Linked DNA regions of Homo sapiens. The protein of the gene in region 1 interacts with the protein of each later gene in a biochemical or structural test. Each region holds a gene or a part of one and is shown on either strand. Other genes may lie near its edges.

Evidence for each region.
Region 2: the proteins of GAK (region 1) and POLI form a complex in vitro, tested with the Homo sapiens proteins (one large-scale study listed by BioGRID).
Region 3: the proteins of GAK (region 1) and LRRK1 form a complex in vitro, tested with the Homo sapiens proteins (2 studies listed by BioGRID and IntAct, with this or other methods).

What each region holds. Positions count from the first base shown.
Region 1 is NC_000004.12:866,242-869,893, forward strand, and holds part of GAK (cyclin-G-associated kinase), read right to left. Parts: intron 2,445-3,652; coding exon 2,298-2,444; intron 1,192-2,297; coding exon 715-1,191; intron 294-714; coding exon 123-293; intron 1-122. UniProt on the Homo sapiens protein: Associates with cyclin G and CDK5. Seems to act as an auxilin homolog that is involved in the uncoating of clathrin-coated vesicles by Hsc70 in non-neuronal cells. Expression oscillates slightly during the cell cycle, peaking at G1.
Region 2 is NC_000018.10:54,282,957-54,286,608, forward strand, and holds part of POLI (DNA polymerase iota isoform a (long)), read left to right. Parts: coding exon 1-59; intron 60-786; exon of another isoform or gene 787-859; intron 860-965; coding exon 966-1,057; intron 1,058-3,652. UniProt on the Homo sapiens protein: Error-prone DNA polymerase specifically involved in DNA repair. Plays an important role in translesion synthesis, where the normal high-fidelity DNA polymerases cannot proceed and DNA synthesis stalls. Favors Hoogsteen base-pairing in the active site.
Region 3 is NC_000015.10:100,922,244-100,925,895, reverse strand, and holds part of LRRK1 (leucine-rich repeat serine/threonine-protein kinase 1), read right to left. Parts: intron 1,386-3,652; 5' UTR 1,264-1,385; coding exon 1,167-1,263; intron 1-1,166.

The DNA.
Region 1 (3,652 bases):
CCCGGAGGCCACACAGTCCAGCCCCACCACTGCCTGAGACCCACAGCTCTGTTTCCCACCAGAGGCTGCGGTCCTGAGGGAGGCGGCCATGGAGAGCTGGCTGCCAGGCGAGAGGCACTTACCCAGGTGCAGGAAGTCGGCGCTGCAGGATGGGGGCGGAGCACTGTGGGCAGACGGGAAGGATGGTGGGACGGTCACAGAGTCCGAATTGAGAAATTCGCCGAAGAGATCAGGATTGGAGCAGGGCTGGGAGTTGTTGCCTGAAGACGGCAGAAGCGGGCCAAAGGGGTCAGCTGTGGGGACAGGCGGGCATGGGGAGGACTCAGCCCGGCTGCCTGAAGACAAAGGAGCCCAGCTCTGGAGTCAGGCCTGCCCAAGAGGCCACTCCAGCTGGGCAGCCCAGACCCCACGGCTGCCCTCGCAGGGGCACTGAGGCAGTCAGCCCAGGGGCTCCCCGTGCCCCACGCCTCAGGATGACTTTCCCAGGGACACAGCAACACTGCTGAGATGGAGAAGCCAGTAGCTCCCGGCCCGTGAGCTCAGGTGGGCAGCACAGAACCCTGACATGACCCCGAGGCTGCTCCTGGGGGAGGTGGGGGAAGGGCACGTTCCCTTCCTGCAAGCACCTTCGAAACACGCCCATGCAGTGAGAATGACTCAGCCTCATCACTCATCTACTGTGAAGCCACTCGCCTTCAGAACAGAAACACGTACCAGCGGCAGGGGGCCCTCCTCTTGGGGTGCTCTGCACGCTCAGGGGAGGGGCCGGGCTTGCCAGGAGCAGCGGGTCCTCGCTGAGCAGATCCTCCGGGGGCCCCTGGGAGGCGGCCTCAGGGGGCCCAAGGAGGCAGCTGAGCAGGTCGGTGTTGCTGGAGGGGGCCTTGCAGGCCTGCGGGGGTACAGCTGGCCCTGCGCCCACCTCGGAGTGCAGGCCCAGGAGGTCGACCCCGTCTTCCTGTGGCACAGGCTCTGGCAGCACAGCCGGTGTCTCCACCTCAAAAACCAAGTCCTGCTGCACCAGCCCTGCTGCCAGGCCGGGGGGCTCTGGGTCGGCCCTGGGTTCCTGGCCCTCGCTGGAGATCGGGGATCCCCCTTCATCTGACACCTCACTCTCGTCTCTGTCCTCCATCAGGGCAGACTCGCTCTCCTTGGAAGAGGCATTTTCTGCACCAGTCTCTGCCTCCTTCTCTTCTGCGAAAAGGAAACAAAACCACAGGCTAGTGAGACCACACGGCCAGCACCAGGGTCCCCACGGCGCGTCCCTTCAGGGCCTCCTCGGCCCAGGGCCTTGGTGAACACACGTGGCCAGCACCAGGGTCCCCACGGCGCGTCCCTTCAGGGCCTCCTCGGCCCAGGGCCTTGGTGAACACACGTGGCCAGCACCAGGGTCCCCATGGCATGGCCCCTCGGCACCTCCTCGGCCCAGGGCCTTGGCAAGTGCTGCAGGAACACCAGGGTCCCCACGGCGCGTCCCCTCAGCCCAGGGCCTTGGCGAACCCACATGGCCAGCACCAATGTCCCCATGGCACGGCCCCTCAGCGCCTCCTTGGCCCAGGGCCCTGGCGAGTGCTGCAGAAGCTTCTGGGCGGGCGGTGGGGTGTTGTTCCTGAGGCGTCTCCAGCACACCCACCTCCAGCCTCTGCCTCAAGGGTCTGCCTGTGGCTCTCTCCGCCTGGGCCTCTGCGGTGCCTCAGGCTGAGTCAAGTGGGGGCCACATGGCAGCACTAGGGGGTAGGAACACCAATCAAGGGTGCTCTGGGAACAGGCGGCAGAAGGGACGAGCCCGATGGGAAGGCCAGGGGTGCTGGGACAGGAAGTGGCAGGTGCATCCCTTGGGGTGTGTCTGGGGTGAGGTCCAGTGATGGCGCCCAGGTGTTTTCCTGAAAAGCCTCAGAGGGGCTGGGAGCCCACTGGGGGTGTGGGCAAAGAGAGGTGTGGGATCCCCAGGTGGTGACAGTCTGTCCCTCCGCCCAGGCCCTTCCCCTGTACCCAGGGGCCCCGCCAGCATGGCCCATGCTGCCAGCCTCCCCAGGCCCACAGACTGGGATGAAGAGCGAGGGTTGTTATTTCAGACTTTGTGGGCATGTTCTTTTTTTTTCACCTTTAAAAAGATATGAAATCATTCTTAGCTCGTGAGCCATTAAAGAACAGGCTGACATGCCGGGTGCACAGCCCCACTGAGGTGCAACTCAGCTCTGCCGGAGGCCCGTCTCCCAAGACGCTTGCCCTGCCCCAGGGGCACCTCCAGACCAGGGGCCTGCCCTCTGCAAGTGGCCAGGTCCAGGGACGCTGCCTACCCTGCCAGTCCAGCGTGTGCAGGAAGCGACTGGCGTCCGCGCTGCTGCTTGGCGGTGAGTCAGAGTCTGTGGGTTCGGCTTCCGGGGACCCTGCCCCAGCATCATACTGAGCCGTGGAGCCAGGCTGCCGGGGAAGCTCCGGCTTCCCTGCAGGAGAGGGAGGGCGTCAGGGCACTGGCACTGGCCAGCAGCCTCGGGGCAACACTGACCCCAGAGCTGGGAAGTGCAGCCAGGCGGGCGCCAGCACCGTGGCAGGCCAGGCCATCGGTAAAGCAGACCAATGACATGACGGGGAGGGGCTCTCTGAACAGATTCCTGCTATCCACTCGGATGCCACTCTGGGCCATGCGTGCACACTTGGGCACAGCACACGCACACATGAACACGCACAAGGAACCCACCACTGAGGCATCAAACGCCACACATATGCAGGGTACACATGAATGCACACACACAGCTGCACGGTACACACGAATGCATAGAGCACACACACAGGCGCACAGTACACACAAATGCACACACACAGATGCAGGGTACACACGAATGCACACACAGCACACACAGATGCACAGTATACACGAATGCACAGACAGCACACACATAGATGCAGGGTACACATGAATACACACAGCACACACAGATGCACAGTACACATGAATGCACACACAGATGCATGGTACACACGGATGCACAGACAGCACACACACAGATGCAGGGTACACATGAATGCACACACAGCACACACACAGATGCACAGTACACATGAATGCACACACAGCACACAGATGCACAGTACACACGAATGCACACACAGCACATACACACATGCAGGGTACACACGAATGCAAAGCACACACAGATGCACGGTACACATGAATGCACACACAGCACAAATGCACAGTACACAGGAATGCACACACAGCACACACAGATGCATGGTACACAGGAATGCACACACACAGATGCACAGTACACACGAATGCACACACAGCACATACACACATGCAGGGTACACATGAATGCACACACACAGATGCACAGTACACACGAATGCACACACAGCACATACACACATGCAGGGTACACATGAATGCACACACACAGATGCACAGTACACACGAATGCACACACAGCACATACACACATGCAGGGTACACATGAATGCACACACAGCACACACAGATGCACAGTACACATGAATGCACACAGTACACACAGATGCACAGTACACACGAATGCACACACAGCAGAGATGCATGGTACACACAAATGCACACACACAGGCACAGTACACATGAATGCACACAGCACACATAGATGCAGGGTACACATGAATGCACGCACACAGATGCACG
Region 2 (3,652 bases), on another chromosome or scaffold:
TCCAAAAGCTCAGTTTTGGAGAGGATAACTCCCCTGTGATACTCTCAGGACCACCTCAGGTACATGATGATACTTATTTTAATTAAGTACTGGTTATCACATTATTTGAGATAAAGATTTCTAGTTTTAGTACCATGTTCTTACTATTCTAGTTTGCTTAGTATGTGATCCCTTTCCTATTAGAAGGCTGATTTATTATTAATAGATTGGATTAATAAGTATTCTTAAATGGAATCTTAAGCATTGATATTTTGATATCTTAAGTTAGCTACTATGATTGAAGACAGTGCAACTTAATTTTAATAGCCTATAATGCATATATGAGGCAAAATATTTTAATCTGTTAAAAATCTTGTTTTCAGAGTAGTCCAGTGATTTAGCAAATGGGAAAGGTATAATCACCCAGTTAACATTGACTGATTTTTTTGCTATGGGACAAGCACTTTACTGAGTGCTTTAAATATGTTAGTCCATTTAATCTTCACAACAAAGCATCAAGGTAGGTAGTACTGTTGTTTGTCCATTCCTTCTTACTTCTCTTCTTTCCTTCCTTCCTTCCATTCTCTCTCTCTCAAGATGAGGATACCGTACTTTAGAAAGGTTAAATAACTTGTCCAAGGATAAACTTAGATTCAAGTCCTAGGTGATTAAGAACTCTTGCCATAATCATACAATAAAGCTTGGAGTTGGTACTAGAGCTTTAGAGTTTTCATAACTTTGAATTATTTTATATTAACTGTTTTATATTAACTGTTAATACAGTAATATTTTATATTAACTTTCTAGTGAGTACAATAGCTTGCAGATAAAAAACTGTTAATATAAAAGTGAACTAAATGGCTCAAACTAAGGACAAGAGGTAAGTTAGTGAAGAATGTATTGAATATTTATTTGACTGTACACTGATAATAATTAGATATAGTTATTTGAGTTTGTGCTAATCCTTATTTATGCTTCTTTGATAGTCCTTTAGTGAAGAAGATTCATTTAAAAAATGTTCATCTGAAGTTGAAGCTAAAAATAAGATTGAAGAACTACTTGCTAGTCTTTTAAACAGGTGATTTTCAATCCATTTTGCCAAGTCATCCTATGTATTCATTCTATATACGGTATGTGGAAAGAATATTTGATGTTCCATCTTGGAACTGACAGATTATCTGGAGACTAAACAATGTAAAAATAATTTATCATGGGATTTCTCTGCTTTATAAACTGTTGTAAAGATGGTAATAGGGGGTCTTACCTAAATTGAATTCATTGGTCTTAATTCTGTTAACACTGTGGTTATGCTATGGATCTAAAGCTGCAGATAGTTACCTAAAGGGGTTTTATGGATATTTCTAACATTTCTAGACTTATTCTGGTCTTCAGGTGAGAAGAAGAAGTTTTAATTTTTCCCTGTGGCAATTGCAAAGCCTCTGCCCTCAACCTAATAGTTAGTTGCATTTCATTAAGTTAGTACCATGCTAAATACAAATACATGCGAAATACAAAACCCGTGAAATTAACCATTTATCTGTGCCTCTGCTAATAGTTACTTGCATTTCATTAAGAAGAAAAAAATGCAAAGAGGAATAATACTGTCATAATTCTAAAACTCCTGATACAGGAACAACTATATAAATTTGTGATTGTTGAGGATAGGAAATTATTAAAGTAACAGTGATGGAAGAAGCAGAAGAACCCTTGTATCTCTTTTGCCTCAGACTGTAAAATAAAATGGAGTCGAAGGAAAGAATGGCTAGCTGGCGCTGTGTGTGAGTAGGGTGAGTGACTGCAGGTGTGTGCAGGGTTTCTGATCTGTATGTAAAGAGTATCAACTGGGGTTATAAATATATGAGTAGTACAAGATAAACTGAAAAGGAAATTTAATTTTGTGGTGCTCCTTGTCATTATACATGTATTTCTCAATATTCCATATTCCACAGATGAGTATTATCTGTTTTCGTCCCATTTCTTTGTTTCTCCTCTTCTTGTTAGAAATTTCTCAAATTGTGGTTTCAGGGCTCTAACAGTTTAGAGTAGGTGTGCTTCTCTAATGATTCTAGGAGGACTAACTGTATTTAGAGAAAATGGTTTTTGGTTGGTTCTAAGTCTGAGAAAACTGAAGAAGTGAAATTTCCTCCAACTTTGCTGTCGTGTGCAATGTGGCACTCAAATGTCTTGAGCAGAGCCATGCAGCTCATTGTTGGCTGCATGCAGCTGGGGCTGGCTGTATGACTGGCCTCCCGTGATATGACTCAGGCTGGGCCTGCGAGTATGCTAGTGAAACTGGGTCATTTGCTTCAGCTAAATAGAAGACTACCCTGAAATGCCTAACCTTTGGAGACAGTTCTTCACATAGAAAAACCACAAGAAGTATAAGTTTTACAGGTTCTCTTATTTGAAGAGTCAACCCAGAAGTGAGACCAGGTGCTCTAAACCTGTGACATACAAAACCTGTGAAATTAACCATTTGTCTGTATCTCTGCTTCCCGGCTCCTTTTCTCCCACACCACGGGCCCTTATTTCAGTGACTGAATTATAACACCATCTAAGTGACTTGCAAAAAAAAAAATTACAGGAGTGTGTGTGTGTGTGTGTGTGTGTGTGTGTGTGTATTTGTGTATAATTAGTTTTGTTTTCTCTAGAGTATGTTATGATTAATACTATAGGTATGTAAGAAATGTAAAACCGTATTATTTTTAATCCATCCTCTAGGCACTAGTTTAAGATTGCTTACGATACAGCCTTTTTCTAATGTGTCTTAATTAGCATATCATACTCTTTGAATTGCATAATTAATATAACACGTTTAACTGGAAGATATTTAAACTAGTAACCATTTAAGGTATTTTATCCTAGTTAAGCAGCCATCGAGAAGTTTTGTCACAAAGCAGTAAGAGATAGAAAAAATTATTTACTACAGAACTATTTAATTTTTTATGTTTTTGCGATAGGGTCTTGCTCTGTCACCCAGGCTGGATGGCAGTAGTGCAGTTAGGGCTCACTGCAGCCTCAGCCTCCTGGGCTCAAGCAATCCTCCCACCTCAACCGCCAGAATAGCTGGGAAGGCACCTGCCATCAAGCCTAGCTAATTTTTAAATTTTTGTAGATGAGGTCTTGCTATGTTGCCCAGGCTGGTCTTGAACTCCTGGGCTCAAGTGATCCTCCCACCTCAACTTCCCAAAGTGTTGGGATTACAGGTACGAGGCACCGTGCCTGGCCCAGAACTATTTTTTTCAGATCAGAATCTTCAAGTTGAGTGTGTTTAACAATGTGCAATACTTGCATTTTATGTTTGAGATTTGGTTTTATATGCATTGCCATGTGTATAAAAAGGGAAATGTTATCCTTTAATGACATTTTTTCCAGTACTACTTAAGTGAATTTGTCATATCACTAAAACCTTTGTTTCAACACCAAAACCAAGACATTTGCATGAAACTCTTCTAAAAAATGCATGTACTCATATTGTATATTAATTATATACTAAATATAGTATATGCTCTTTTAAGATATTGCTCTAATAAGCTATCATATAATGGTAATAGTGATTACTCTTTAACAAAAGTAATGTCATTTTGTAAAAAAAAATCTTTTTTTTGGTAATCTCGTAAGAAAAAAGTTTGAAAAAAGTTCTTTTGTTATTTTTCACTTATTTGCTTTTGTC
Region 3 (3,652 bases), on another chromosome or scaffold:
GCATTTAAGAATGAGTGTTGCAGCATTAAGACAGGGTTCAGATGGCAATTCTGTGATTTCTGAGTTGTTGACCTTGAACACGTTTCCAGGCTTCTCTTACCCTCATGTTCCTCAGCTATAAAACGGAAATAAAAGTACCATGTGCCAGGTTGTCGTGAGGATTTTATGACATTATTTCGTAAAGTTCTGAACTTTGTACATGTAGTGCCTGGTACATACTAAGGGATTGACAAATATTTGTAAACGATGATATCCTATTGGTCTTAAAGGTGGTGCAAGTGTAGCGGAAAATCTGGCAAAATACGTGCCAAGAGCTTAACGATGTTCAAGACCAATCATTCAACTTCTGTAAACCTGCATTACAGAAATAACCTTGAAACCAGGTATGAAGAGATGGGAAGGAAATGCTCTCAGTAGGAGTAAACAACTAGAAGCAACCCAAATGTCCCACAGGAGAATAAGGATTAGGTCAATAACTGCACATAGCACTCCCGCAGATAATGATGTTTGTTTTGGTTCGGAGTACTGCCCAATTTATGAATCATTTTTTGATCCAATTATTAAATCGTAAAAAAATAAAATAAAATAAATGAAATGATGTTTCACTTGATTGCGGGAGCCAGGTGGTGCCCTAAGCAAATGTCACTGATGGACGGTGAAGAGAAAAAAGCAACATGCAACATTACATACACCTTGTAAGTACAATAAGGTTAAAACAAAGTCCCCTAAACACAGAGAAGCAGAGACTAGGAGAGAACATGCCAAGATGCTCATTGTACTTGTGTTTGAGATAGCGGGATTCTGGATGATTCCTTTCCCTTCTTCCTTTTTTTTAAATTATTTTTTTCAATTTTTCCTTAATAAACATGTATTATTTTTATAATGAAAAAACAAAACTACATCCTTTTTCTTAAAAGTTCTTTAACCCAGCATGAAGTGATGTCCCAATTGTTAAGATCTGTGAGTCCACAATAAATTTTGTACACTGTTCCTCAATTTTTAGAATTTAAGAGTCCCAAGATATATTATATGATGAAAGAGCACCAAATGATGGACATTTGATTTCCACTGGTTGAGAACTCCTTGTTCTTACATAGCCTAGACACCCTGCAGGATGAGCATGGCAGGTCACACCCAGGCAGGCATAAGCACAGCCCTGTCCTTACCGTTAAGCGTCTCCATGGCACGTTCTGGACACACAGCTGACTCCTCCGGCCCCACACACCAGTACATGCTGGGGGGTCTTTGCGACATGCCAGCCATCAACCCTTGCAGCAGCCGATCTTCAAAGGCAGGTCCCGCTGTTGTCACTGCCACTGCCGCTGGCTGTGGGGTGCATTAAGGCGTGGACTCGTAGCCATGGCTGAGCAGAAAGCTTTCTTGCTCTGGTGGCGAAAAACAATCAAAACAGAAAGCCTTTATAATTCCTGTCCTCCTCCCCTGCAAATATTTGCATGGGTTCATTTAGTTTTCCCTCTGCAACATTCCTTTTTGTAGTCCATCTATCCAGCCAAACCCATCAGGTGTGGTCAGTGGGAAGGCACAGCTCCCCCCATCCCATCTTGATGCGGGGCTCAGGTATTGTCTACCTGAGAAGAGTCTCAAACAAACCCCAGACAATTGGAAAACACATACTGGTAACAGCTTCAATCATTGTTCAGTCAACGCACACCTACTGTCACATGCAAGGTAGCCAGGCTCTGTGTGAGGCTCAGTGGCACCAAGATGGCTCAAGGAGGCTCTTGCCCTCAGGGGCACACTCCAGTGGGGGTAGGGCAGACATAGTTAAGGTTAGTCACGATACAAGGCTCTCCTTTTGCCCGGGGCCAGTTCTTCTGGAAGCCAGAGGTGAGCACGTCATCCCAAGGGGGTGGTCAGGCAACAGTTCCAAAGACATGGAATTATTACTGGTTATGAAGTCAAGTTAGCATGAGCTTTAGCAGAAAGCTAAATGACGGAGGTTAGCAGACATGAGCCTCAAAAATTCTGCCCCTTTCCCAGGGGACATTTGGCAATGTCTGGAGACATTTTTGGTTGCCACAACTTGGCTGGGGGAGAGTGCTACAGGCCTCTAATGGGTAGAGGTCAATGATGCTGCTAAACATCCTACAATGTACAGGACTGCTATTTGCAACAAAGAATTATCTGGCCCCAAAAGTTCCAGGGTGGAGTTAGACTAATCTCTGAAACTAATGACTATGATAAACTGAGACCAAGTGCTGCTCTTCTATGCTGGGCCCCCACTGAGCTTAGAGTCCCCCCATGGGCATAAGTGCCCATCCTGGTATGGTGATTGAAGGACCAGAGGGAGGGTAAGACCCATGCCTAGCTCAGGCCTGACATGAGGTACTACCATAAGTAATGCATGTGCGCCTATCCTTGTTCTTATAGCATATCCTACATGTGATGAAGTACGAGGTAATTAGCACCTCTTGTCTGTGTTCTCTCAGATAGACAACTCTGAAATGGGGAGTGATAGTGCAGCCAAAAATATATTTTTTAAATCAAGGTTATATAAAAATAATGCCTAAGAGAATCTGTACAGGCAAAAGCATAGCGTGGACGTTAAAGGTGTGGACTGCCTGTGTCACATGTTCGCAGTGTGACTCCCAGCTGAAAGGTATGTGTGTCTCAGTTTTCACCTGTTAAAAATAGACATCCACCCTTATGCCCGGGCCTGCTAGTGGGGTTACTGTGTGAATTCAACCAAAGTGAAGTTTCTGCAGCCTCTCTCTACGACAGGGCTGGGGTGGTCATTACCTGTAGTACCAGCGCACAGACTTGGAGGCCAGCGGGTCTCCCACTTCCCTGCTAATTAATAAGATCAGAATATCAATGCTGGAGGGCAGATGCCAGCCTCACCAGCGGGTAGGTTCTAGAAGATGCCGTGAGCAGTAGGGGCACGAAGTAAGGTACAGGACAAGGCTGTGGGAATTTCTCACCTAAAAGCCTAGAACTCAGGCACCTGGCCCAGGTGGACTGGACTCGTCAAGGCAGGGAAAGGTGGAGCTAGAAAAGCCAGGCTCCAGCAGCCTTGTGCAAGCTGCACATGTTTCAGAGGCAAAAGGGATGGTCGACACAAACCACGTGTGGGAAACACCTGTGTTTGAAGTTGGGAAGCCTGAAAAGTCGAAGGAGGAAAGGAAAAACGATCAATCTGGGCAAAATTTAGGGGATGATGAAAGCCTTATAAATAGCAAAACCTGATTTGGAAAATCAACTTGTGACAGAGAGAGGAAGAGCCAGCAAGACAGAATCTGTTTTAAAATAAACGTTCCGATCACACATTCACATCCAGAAACTGAGAAGCACAGTTGCCATCTGCTTTCAGACACCTCTCCAAAACAGCTACCGCACATAACCAACAGCATTTCAAAAATCCAAACGCTAGACATTCTTCCTGAAAACAGAAGTGTCTTACCATACAATGTTTTTAAGTTCTAAAAAAAAAAAAATCTTAAAATTATTTCAGGCTAACCCTCACCCAGCACATTTTGTTCCCCTTTTCATTTTCAGTTTCCTTTTGAAAATCACTTTACCAGTGGAAGACTCTGCCCCTGGAGCAGTTTTAAAATTCTAGTTACTATTTTGGCTTATATTCTAAGGTAGAAGTTTTAAGATGAGGTAATTCAAATTTTGCTCAATCTTTGCC